3 linked regions of the Homo sapiens genome follow. The protein of the gene in region 3 purifies or fractionates together with the protein of the main gene of each other region. This does not show direct contact. Each region holds a gene or a part of one and is shown on either strand. Other genes may lie near its edges.

Region 1 (3,651 bases), on a different chromosome or scaffold from region 3:
GTAGACATTGAATAAATGGTTGCTATTATTAAGATGGCCGAATTAAAAGAAACATTATACTCTGGAAAGACTGGTAAAACATTTTAAGTGTCGCTATGTCCTGGGCACTGTTTTTGGCAGTTGATAGTTTTAGGCCAGTGGTTTTGGAATTTTTTTTGATTCTTCTGCAACTGGAATAAAAGCTCCATAAAATACTTTTACTTATGGAAATTTCTGTTTTGTTTGATATAAAACGGAATGACACTAAATTTTTTTTCTTTTTTTTTTTTTTGAGACGGAGTCTTGCTCAGTCGCCCAGGCTGGAGTGCAGTGGCGTAATCTCGGCTCACTGCAAGCTCCGCCCCCCGGGTTCACGCCATTCTCCTGCCTCAGCCTCCCGAGTAGCTGGGACTGCAGGCCCCGCCAACACGCCCGGCTAATTTTTTTTGTATTTTAGTGGAGACGGGGTTTCACCATGTTAGCCAGGTTGGTCTCCATCTCCTGACCTGGTGATCCAGCCGCCTCGGCCTCCCAAAGTGCTGGGATTACAGGCGTGAACCACCGCGCCTGGCCTAAATTTATTTCTAAAGGATTGCAGCCATAACTATTTTAGGTGATGATTATTATAAATAAGCTACAGAACAGACAGTTCAAATGATTGTGATACTTATTAAAGAGTTAAGCATGGGCAAAATAATTTTATCAAGACATCTAATTGAGAAATTGCATTATTTGTTTACAACAATTATTCAGTTGGTGGATTTCTTTCTGCAGGATGGCTGAATGCTATACTGAGTTTCTGCATTGCATGTTTTCACTTCGGATAAGGGTGTTTATCTTCTATAAAGTAAGCCTCACTTCAGTGAATAAAACACTGTTTTATATGAGTAACTTTGAAATTTAGTCAAATATACAGACTAGGCAATCTAAGAACAGGCTGTTTGCTCTTAAAATTATTTATTTTAAAATACAATTTGTCAGTACATAAATGCAAGGAAACAAGGTTATTTGGTATTATTAACATATGCTTTTGTTTCTCAAGCTGTTCGTGTTTGCGGCAGTGAGTATTCTCACTAAAGGTTCAAGCTGTTCGGGTGTGAGGCTAGAAACTTTTAAAATGTGCTTGGACTCTTCGGTGAAAATTATTGATACTTTGATGCTGTGATCCTTTTAGCGGTATCATAACTTGTAGTTTCTGTAATATCTTGCTTGGAAGGACCTTGTATAAGTGCTTAAATATTTTGGAACTAATTTCAGGAGGAGATTGGGGATGCAAAATGAAATTATATTTTTAGGCAGAAAACTACATTAAGTTATGTAAGTTATTAACACCAGGCCTAAAGTTATTGATGAGACTCTCAATAAAAATAACATGACCAGCAGTAGTCTTTTTTTTTTTTTTTTTTTGAGATGGAGTCTCGCTCTGTCACCCAGGCTGGAGTGCCGTGCCATGATCTTGGCTCACTGTGACATCTGCCTCCTGGGTTCAAGTGATTCTCCTGTCTCAGCCTCCCAAGTAGCTGGGATTAGTAGGCGCCCACTATCATGCCTACCTAATTTTTGTGTTTTTAGTAGAGATGGGGTTTCACCATGTTGGCCAGGCTGGTCTCGAACTCCTGACCTCAGGTGGTCCACCCGCTTTGGCCTTCCAAAGTGCTGGGCTTACAGGCGTGAGCCTGCTGCACACAGCTGTCATTTTTTTTTTCCCAAGAAAATAGTCACCCAAATATTGGAAACCTACCTTTATCAAATTATGTATGTTTAACCAGGAGGCTATTTTCTCTAATGGTCTTAGTCATTGTTTTATCACTACAAGACCCAAACTACAAGTAAAGGACTGCAAGGGATAGGAGTCTTCCTCACTAATGATTAGCTTTATTGGTACGTATAATTTAAGTACTGTATATCCATATATCCAGTTTAAAGATACTATGTTTTGCAAGTCTGAGAAAGGTGACGAGTGAACTTCATTACCATGAATTCTTAGCTACACATTATATTGTCTTTATTTGTAACCTTCTAGATTTATGCTAATGCAGAAATAGCTCTTTGATGAAAAGTTTTTGAAGAGTAGACCTTTTTCCCCTTTATATGCACCATGTACCAGAGGTTTGCACATATTGAGCACTGTAAATTTTACATTTAAAGTAATATAAAAAGATGTGAATTTTTATGACATTTATTTGGAATGCCATTTTGTGTTTTGACTCAATCGTTCATTAGCTATAGTTAAATTATAAATTTGTAACGATTACAAAGATTTCTTAGTCTGGGTCATGGTGGCTCACACCTGTAATCCCATCTCTTTAGGAGGCCAAGGCGAGAGGATCACTTGAGGTCAGGAGTTCAAGACCAGCCTGGGAAACATCTATAAAAAATTAAAAAATTATCTGGTCACGATGGCACATGCCTGTAGTTTCAGCTGCTTAGAAGGCTGAGGCAGGAGGATCACTTGAGCCCAGGAACTCAAGGCTACAGTGAGCCATGATCATGCCACTGCACTCCATATCACAGACAAAACCCTGTCTTTCAAAATAAATAAATAAAGATTTCTTAGCATAGATTAGATATGTTAAATAGACTACTAAAAAATCAGCATATTCATATCTGAGATTGAATTCAAGGTGTGGACTATGTAACGTGTTTTCTGGTTTTAGGATATAACTATTGCACTGATATAATTAGTTTTTTTTTTTTTTTTGAGACAGGGTCTCACTGTGTTTCCTAGGCTGGAGTGTGGTGTGATGCTATCATGGCTCACTGCAGCCTGGACCTCCTGGTCTCAGGCGATCCTCCTGCCTCAGCTTCCAGAGTAGCTGGGACTATAGGCACGTGCTACCACGCCCGGCTCATTTTTAATTTTTTTTTTTTTTTTTTTTTTTTTTTTTTTGTAGAGACAGGGTCTTACTATGTTGCTCAGACTGGTCTCGAATTCCTGGGCTCAAGTGATCCTCCTGCCTTGGTTTCCCAAAGTGCTTGCGATTACAGGCATGAGCCACCATGCCTGGCCTCAAGTACTTTTTTCTTTCTTTCTTTTTTTTTTTTCATTAAGCCCTTTCTATCAAGTACTTTTTTTTTTTTTTTTCCTTGAGAGGGAGTCTTGCTCTGTCGCCCAGGCTGGAGTGCAGTGGCGTGATCTCGGCTCACTGCAAGCTCCGCCTCCCAGATTCATGCCATTCTCCCGCCTCAGCTTCCCAAGTAGCTGGGACTACAGGCGCCCACCACCACGCCCAGCTAATTTTTTTTGTATTTTTTTAGTAGAGACGGGGTTTTACCGTGTTAGCCAGGATGGTCTGATCTCCTGACCTCGTGATCCACCCGCCTCGGCCTCCCAAAGTGCTGGGATTACAGGCGTGAGCCACCGCACCCGGCCTGTCAAGTACTTTTTTAAACCAAGTTTTTTGGAGCTATAATTCACATACAGTAAAAATCTCCATTTTACAATGTCTAGTTCGGTGGCTTTTAGTATACTCACAGGGTTGTAAAACATCACCACTATCTCATTCCAGAACGCTTATCATCCCCTGCTCCCTCAAAACCCATACATTTCCCATTTCTCCCTTCCCTCAGCCTCTGGTAACCATGAATTTACTTTCTGTCTCTATGGATTTGCTTACTCTGAATATTTCATATAAATGGAATAAAATATGTGGCCTTTTGTGTCTAGCTTCT
Region 2 (3,651 bases), on a different chromosome or scaffold from region 3:
ACTACAGGCGCGTGCCACCACACTCAGCTAATTTTTTGTATTTTTAGTAGAGACGAGGTTTCACCGTGTTAGCCAGGATGGTCTCAAACTCCTGACCTGGTGATCCACCTGCCTCGGCCTCCCAAAGTGCTGGGATTATAGGGGTTAAGCCACCGCGCCTGGCCGACTTGTGTGATTTTCAGGGGCAGGACTTCCGTGCAATCTTCCGAGTCATGTCTGAGAAAGGGAGTAGAATGAGCTCAGTGGGTTGCCAGGACTGAAATGGAAATCAAGTGGCCTTTTCTTGAGGTGTTGGCCCCAAGGGAGGGAAAGGACATCCAGGTACTACTAGGTCCCCAAGGAACAGTCCTCAACCCTGGGGAGGTCCAGTCTTTACAGTCAGCCTTGGGGCTGCACCCTTGGCCCAGCCTGGCCGTGAGGACAGGGACTCACCCACAGCCGCAGTCCATCCATGCAAGGTTGGACTTTGGTAAGAGGTGTCAACAGCACCTAGGTCAGCAGCCACCACTGCTGACCACATGCGGTCACTGCAGATGTGCTGAGTGCTCTCCAGCTTGGGGGAACAAGTTGGACTGAGCCACCTCTTGGAGTGTGTAAACCCCAGGTTCTGTGTTTGCAACAACAGGAGAGAGAAGAGAATCCCCCACAAGTGTGGCAAACTGGATATTTCTGTTTACCTGGCAAAAGGAACTTGAACTAGGTTTGATTTGATTTAGAAAATAAAAAATCTGTCGGGCGCGGTGGCTCAGGCCTGTAATCCTAGCACTTTGGGAGGCCGAGGCGGGTGGATCACGATGTCAGGAGATCGAGACCATCCTGGCTAACATGGTGAAACCCCATCTCTACTAGAAATACAAAAAATTAGCCGGGCATGGTGACGGGCGCCTGTAGTCCCAGCTACTCGGGAGGCTGAGGCAGGAGAATGGCATGAACCTGGGAGGCGGAGCTTGCAGTGAGTCAAGATTGTGCCACTGCACTCCAGCCTGGGCAACAGAGTGAGACTCCGTCTCAAAAAAAAAAAGAAAAGAAAAAATCTACACTGGGTGTGGTGGTTCACGCCTGTAATCCCAGCACTTTGGGAGGCTGAGGCAGGTGGATCACCTGAGGTCAGGACTTCTAGACCAGCCTGGCCAACATGGCAAAACCCCGTCTCCACTAAAAATAAAATGCAAACATTAGCTGGGCGTGCTGGTGCACGTCTGTAATCCCAGCTACTCGAGAGGCTGAGGCACAAGAATCGCTTGAACCCGGGAAGTGGAGGTTGTAGTGAGCCGAGATTGCACCACTGCACTCCAGCCTGGGCGACAAAGTGAGACCCTGTCTCAAAAAAAAAAAAATCTGGATGTCACTATATTAGAACTTGAAACATGGAATAGTTCACACCACACACACCGAAGCCCAGTCTCTATCGAACCTCCTCCCTGCAATTTCCTTCTAACCTCTGGTCTGATTTCTTTTTCTAACAGAGCTGCTTATTTCATTGTTTCTGGGCTCCCTGTGCTTTCCTGTTTGATCTCCTTTTCTTCCTGCAGCCCAGCTAGTATCTAGTCCTGTCATCTGGAAAACCTGGTGTTTCTCTCTTTATCTTTACAACTTAAATTTATTTTTATCCCCTTATCTTCCCCACCCACCCTTGCCCATTAACATTTTATTCTTCTGCCCTGATTACTTTCTCCTCCCGCTGCCTGGTTTCCTTTTTATGTTTGCTACTACTATTTATTCTTGCTGCCTAATTTCTTTTTACTCATGCAGCCTGATTTCGTTTATCCTTATTGCTTGATCTTTTTTAGCCCTGTAGCCTGATATATTTTAACATTTGCTGTCTCATTTACTTCGTCCTTCTTGTCTGACTTCTTTTTATCACTGCTGTCAGATTTCATTGACCCTTTCTGCCAGAGTCTTGTTATCCTTGCTGCCTGATTTCTTTTACTTTTGCTCTCTGATTTCTTTTGGAACCTTCCAGCATCACTTATCAGTTGTGCTTCGGTGTAGGGTATTAGTAGGTGTACCCTCAACCCTCCCCTTGCCTCACTCCCCCACCCAAGCTACCCCAGTGCCTGGACCCTGCACCTGTAGACGAGGATGTCATCAGCCGAGCTGTTGTACTGGATCTGGTACATGCGGATGCCCGGGATAGGCCGCTGATCCGGCCACTGGACAAGAGCAGCTGTGGCCCCGTGCTCAGTCACCTGGACGCCACGGTCGGTAGGGGGCCCAGTGTCGGCCACCTTGGCAGAAGCAGAGGCAGCGGAGGGTGGGGTGAGAGCATCAGGATCCCCGTCCCGCGGGGGGTCACAGCTGGTGCTGTTGGCTAGCTGAGGAGGTGGTGGGGGACCCACAGTCAGCTCCACAGCAGCTGTGGCCTCGCCAGCTGCATTGGCCGCAATGCAGGTGAAGATGCCACCATCACCCGGCTCGGTGACCAGCAGCTCCAGCGTCCCATTGGGGAAGGCGCGGGCACGGCTTGAGTTGCCTAGCAGCCGGCCCTGGGGTGACACCCAACGCACACGGGGCTCTGGGTCCCCCACTGCCCGGCAGCGCAGGGCAGCCGGCCGACCTGCGGGCACAGCCAGAGGTGGTGAGCGGTGAGTCACCACGGGCGGCTCGCAGACAAACTCCTCCTCGCCCACCGCCCAGAAGTAGCGGCCGCCCAGAGCAGGTGGGGACGCGCAGGCCTCGAGGTCGTCCTCCCGCGCCAGGCGACGCAGCCACACCAGCTCGCAGTTGCAGTGCAGGGGGTTCCCGCCAAAGGCCAGCACCAGGGCAGAGGCGGGCGAGCCCCGGGGCCTGGCGAGCAGGGGCAGGCGGGAGAAGAGTGGGTCGGGTGGGATTGTGGTCAGGCGGTTGGAGGTCATGTCCAGCCGGGCCAGCTTGTGCAGGCGGGAAAAAGCGCCGGCGGGCACAGAAGCCAGCAGGTTGTGGTCGAGGCCCAACGTGTTGACGTTGCCCAGGCGGCCCAGGGCCTCCCAGGGCAGCTGCTCGAGGTTGTTGTAGGAGAGGTCGAGGTCCTCCAGTGTCTCGGCACAATCATCCAGGGCGCCGGCCGCCAGCGCTGCCAGCTGGTTGTTGCTGAGGATGAGGTGGCGCAAGTTGACCAGGCCGCGCAGCTGGCCCTCGCCCAGTGAGGTCAGCCGGTTGCCATCCAGGTGCAGGGCACGCAGGGCCCGCAGGTCGGCGAAGGCGCCGGCAGCCACGTGGCGGATGGTGTTCCGCGACAGGCTCAGATGCAGCAGGCCTGTCATGTTGGCCAGGTCGCGGCGGCGCACGGAGGCGATGAAGTTGTCTGCCAGCCGCAGCTCGGCTGCCCGGCGGTCCAGCGAGGGTGGCACGAACAGGAGGCCTGCCCCTGGGCACAGCACGCTTAGGGGCAGCGACTGTGTCTGGCAGCGGCAGCGGCGGGGACATGGGCTGGGTGTGGCTGACTGGGGTGGGGATGAGGCAGGGGCCAGCGGCAGCAGGCACAGGAGCAACGGGAGGATGGCCATCGCGGGCAGGGGTGTCCTGCGGAGAAGAGGGGAGGCGTGAGGGCAGAAGAGGGGTTCTGCAGGGGCTGGGGGTGGTCTGAGACCAGGAGAGAAGGTCACAGTGGGCTGAGGGCAGAAGGGCTGGTCAAAGACCGTCAGATGTGACCAAAAGCCAGAGGAAGGCCAG
Region 3 (3,651 bases):
GCTTCCAGGACTTTCCTCTTCTGTTTTTTTCCCACACTTCACTGGCCTCTTCTTAGACTCCTTTCTGGTTTCTCTCTCTCCTCCCCTGGTTCCCAGCCTGTGAAACTTGGAGGCCTGGGGCTGAGATGTGGGACTCCTCTCTGTCCTGTCTGCACTTGCTCCCTAGGAGAGCTCATCCAGCTCAAGGCTGCGGCACAATTTCCACAATGGCATCCACAGCTCAGCCTCTACCCTGGGCCTCTCTTTTGAACATCACACTGGTACGGGAATGAGTCTTTATACTGTCTGCTGTCTGTCATTCAAAACTGAGCTCCAGGTCCTCCTTCCCTCAAACTTACCCCTTCTGCAGGCTGACCCATCCCTGCAACTCCACCCCTTTCAGTGCTTGGGCCAGGAACTGCGAATGTGTCCTGGGCTTTTCCCTTGCCCTCATATCCTACCTCCAGTCCAGGGAAGTCCTGTTGGTTCTACCCTCCAAGGCAGGCCACTTCTCTACTGCCTCCCACTGTTCCAAGCCATTTCCTCTCTCCCTGGATTCTTGCAGAAGCCTCCTGATTGTCTTCCTTCATCTCTCTTGCCCTTCATTCTCCTCCCTGCATGGCAGCTGGAGTGGTCCTACTGCAGTGGAACCAGCCCTCATTCCCCTCCGTTCCACCTGCAGAACCCTGGGATGCCCCAACGGCTTGTGGTTTTCCGACTTCATCCCTTTCTTACCACCTCCCTGCCAACCCCCAGCCTTGCTCACTTCTCTAGCTGCAGTGGCCCTTCTTGCTGTTGCTTGACCATGCCAGGCATACTCCTGTCACTGCCTGGAAGCTTCTTCCCTCAATTTCTACATAGCTGGCTTTCTCACCCCTTCAGGACTTCCTCCAAAGTCACCTCCTCAGAGAGGTCCTCCCTGGCCACCATTTCAGCCCCTTCCCTTGACCTTATAGAGCCCTTTCCTGGTTACTTTTTAATACTTCAGTCTTCACCACTGCCTTAAGGACTGTGGATTTTTATTTGTTCAGTGTCTGTCTCCCTCACTAGAATATAAACTCTTTGAAGGCAGAGATTTTTGTCTTATTTGTTTCCTGTTACACAATGCCTGGCTAATAGCAGGTCCTCAGGAAATCTTTGTTGAATGAATGAATAAATGAATGAGTTTCAGAGGAAACATTTGGGCATGTTTTCTTCGGAGAGCATTTTCCATCTCTCCCTCTCCTCATCTCCCACACCCCATCGCATCAACCCAGTGCATTTCATCTCCCCCACCCCATCTCATCTCCCCTACCTCATCTCCCCTCCCCATCTCATCCTCCCCTACCCCATCTCATCTCCCCTACTCCATCTCATCTCATCTCATCTCATCTCATCTCATCTCATCTCATCTCATCTCATCTCATCTCATCTCATCTTCTTTTACCCCATCTGCTCTCCCCTATGCCATCTACTCTTTCCTACCCCATCTACTCTCCCCTACCCCATCTCATCTCCTTTACCTCATTTCATCTCCTCTACCCGATCTGCTCTCCTCTACCCCATCTCAAGTCCCCTACTCCATCTCCTCTCCCCTACCCCATCTCATCTCCCCTGCCTTATCTACTCTCCCCTACATGTTCCACCCTCTCTTTGGAAGAGCTGCTGCTTAGTGTTCATAGCTTTTCCCTCTAGCCCTGCCCCTTTCCCTCCCTTCCTAGGAGTGATGGCCCTCCTCATGCATGTTTTTATAGCCTGGCTACAAATTCACGTATAAATGAGATCTGCTTTTTTTTTTCTTTGTGTGTGTGTGTGTATTTTTAAAAACTGTGGCAGAATAATACACAGCATAAAATTGACCATCTTCACCGCTATTAAGCATACAGGTCAGTGGCATTAAGCACATTCACAGTGTTGTGCAGTCTGCACCCCATCTGTCTGCAGAACTCTTTATCTTGGAAAACTGAAACTCTGTCCCCATTAAACAACTCCCCATTCCCCCTCCCCCAGCCCTGGCCACCACCATTCTACTTTCTATCTATCTCTATGATTTTGACTACTCTGGGTACCTCATATAAGTGCAGTTATATAGTATTTGTCCTTATGTGTCTGGCTTATTTTACTTAGCATAATATCTTCAAGTTTCATCCATGTTGTAGCAAGTGCCAAGATTTCTTTCCATTCTAAGGCTGAATACTATTCCACTGTATGGATAGAACACATTTTTACAATTCATTCATCCATCCATAGACACTTGGATTACTCCCCTCTTTTGGCTATTATTAATAATGCTGCTATGAACATGGATGTACAGTATCTTTTTGAGACCCTGGTTTCAGCTTTTTGGGCATTTACCCAGAAGTGGAATGGCTGGATCATGTCATAATTCTACATTTAATTTTTTGAGGAACCATCATGCTGTTTTTCACAGTGGCTGCACCATTTGACATGCCCACCAGCAGTGGACAAGGGTTCCAGTTTTTCCACATCCTTGTCAATGCTTGTTATTTTCTGTTTTTTGATAGCAGCCATCCTAATGGGTACAAGGTGGTGTTTCATGTAAAAACTTAAATGGCATTGTACTTCGTATATGCAGCTTGACTTATGTACTTAATATTAACTTTTTTACCATTTAACCATGTAAGCCCTGTAGATCTCGTTTATTTTACTATTTAAATAAAATTAAACTCATATTCATACATATTTTTGGAAAACAGCAGTTCCCTGTGCCCCATCTCCCTCCCGTGAATTCTTATTCCACTTTGAAGTCTTCTGGCTGTGTCTTCTGGCTGTGTCGTGTTTCTAAATGTAAATACTGCTGTTTCTTGATTTTTTCAGTTTGAGACCCCAGCTATTGACCCTTAGTGAGGAAGAAAGGAACTGAGCTCTCTTCACATTTTTTGAAGGCTACTCTTGACCTTTTGTTTTCTTAAGTGTAGACATTTACATAATCCCAGGAAACAAGGTTTCAGAGCTCTGATCCTTTGCATTCTGAGAACATTCGGGACTTGGCAGGTTGAATTTTCTTGTCTTTAATGAGAAGGTTATCCCTGGGATCAGGTTGGTAGAAGTGCATGGGTGTACTTTGTTTGGGTTTTTCTCTTATTAAAGAAAATGAAGCTTGGTTTTCCTAATGGAACAGGTCTGGAATCCACATCCAGTTGTGTGCCAGCCATTATGCCATGTGCTGTGCAGCCATTACCTCCTCAGCCTTCACCACTGCCCTCGGGGTGGCGCTCTTCTTATTCCCACTTCAGGGAGGAGAGGACTGAGGCCCAGAGAGGCAAAGCCACTCAGCCAAGGCCCGAGGCCTGCCAGCAGCCGTATCAGGTGGGAGGCACTCCGTTCTGACTCCCACACGCTGGCTGCAAGTGCTCCTCTGCTTCTCGGGTTCAGCCTCTGAGCCACCTGGGTGGTAGGTGAGAGCACTGCCCTCATCCTGCAGTGACAAGAAGGTAGGGGACTAGCACTGCTGAGTACCTCTGTGTGTCAGGCCCTGGGCCTACCCTGACATATTCCAAACTCTCCGGCAGTTCCCCTGGGCTGCACGGTGTGTTTGGCGGCATTTGCTGGGAGAGCTGGTGGAAAGCTAAGCTCAGGGGCTCTCACGTGGTGTGGCCCTGGCTCTGGGAATGTGCAGTTTTATACTTGATATCTTAGATCATTTTTCAGAAGTCATTGAGTGTAACAGGG

What was found.
Region 1: the proteins of WDR25 (region 3) and LRP6 purify together in Homo sapiens (affinity purification with mass spectrometry; one large-scale study listed by BioGRID and IntAct). This does not show direct contact.
Region 2: the proteins of WDR25 (region 3) and LRFN3 purify together in Homo sapiens (affinity purification with mass spectrometry; one large-scale study listed by BioGRID and IntAct). This does not show direct contact.

Annotation. Positions count from the first base shown.
Region 1 is NC_000012.12:12,256,998-12,260,648, reverse strand, and holds part of LRP6 (low-density lipoprotein receptor-related protein 6 isoform b precursor), read left to right. Parts: intron 1-3,651. UniProt on the Homo sapiens protein: Component of the Wnt-Fzd-LRP5-LRP6 complex that triggers beta-catenin signaling through inducing aggregation of receptor-ligand complexes into ribosome-sized signalosomes.
Region 2 is NC_000019.10:35,939,260-35,942,910, reverse strand, and holds part of LRFN3 (leucine-rich repeat and fibronectin type-III domain-containing protein 3 precursor), read right to left. Parts: intron 3,502-3,651; 5' UTR 3,486-3,501; coding exon 2,071-3,485; intron 1-2,070. UniProt on the Homo sapiens protein: Cell adhesion molecule that mediates homophilic cell-cell adhesion in a Ca(2+)-independent manner. Promotes neurite outgrowth in hippocampal neurons.
Region 3 is NC_000014.9:100,463,408-100,467,058, forward strand, and holds part of WDR25 (WD repeat-containing protein 25), read left to right. Parts: intron 1-3,651.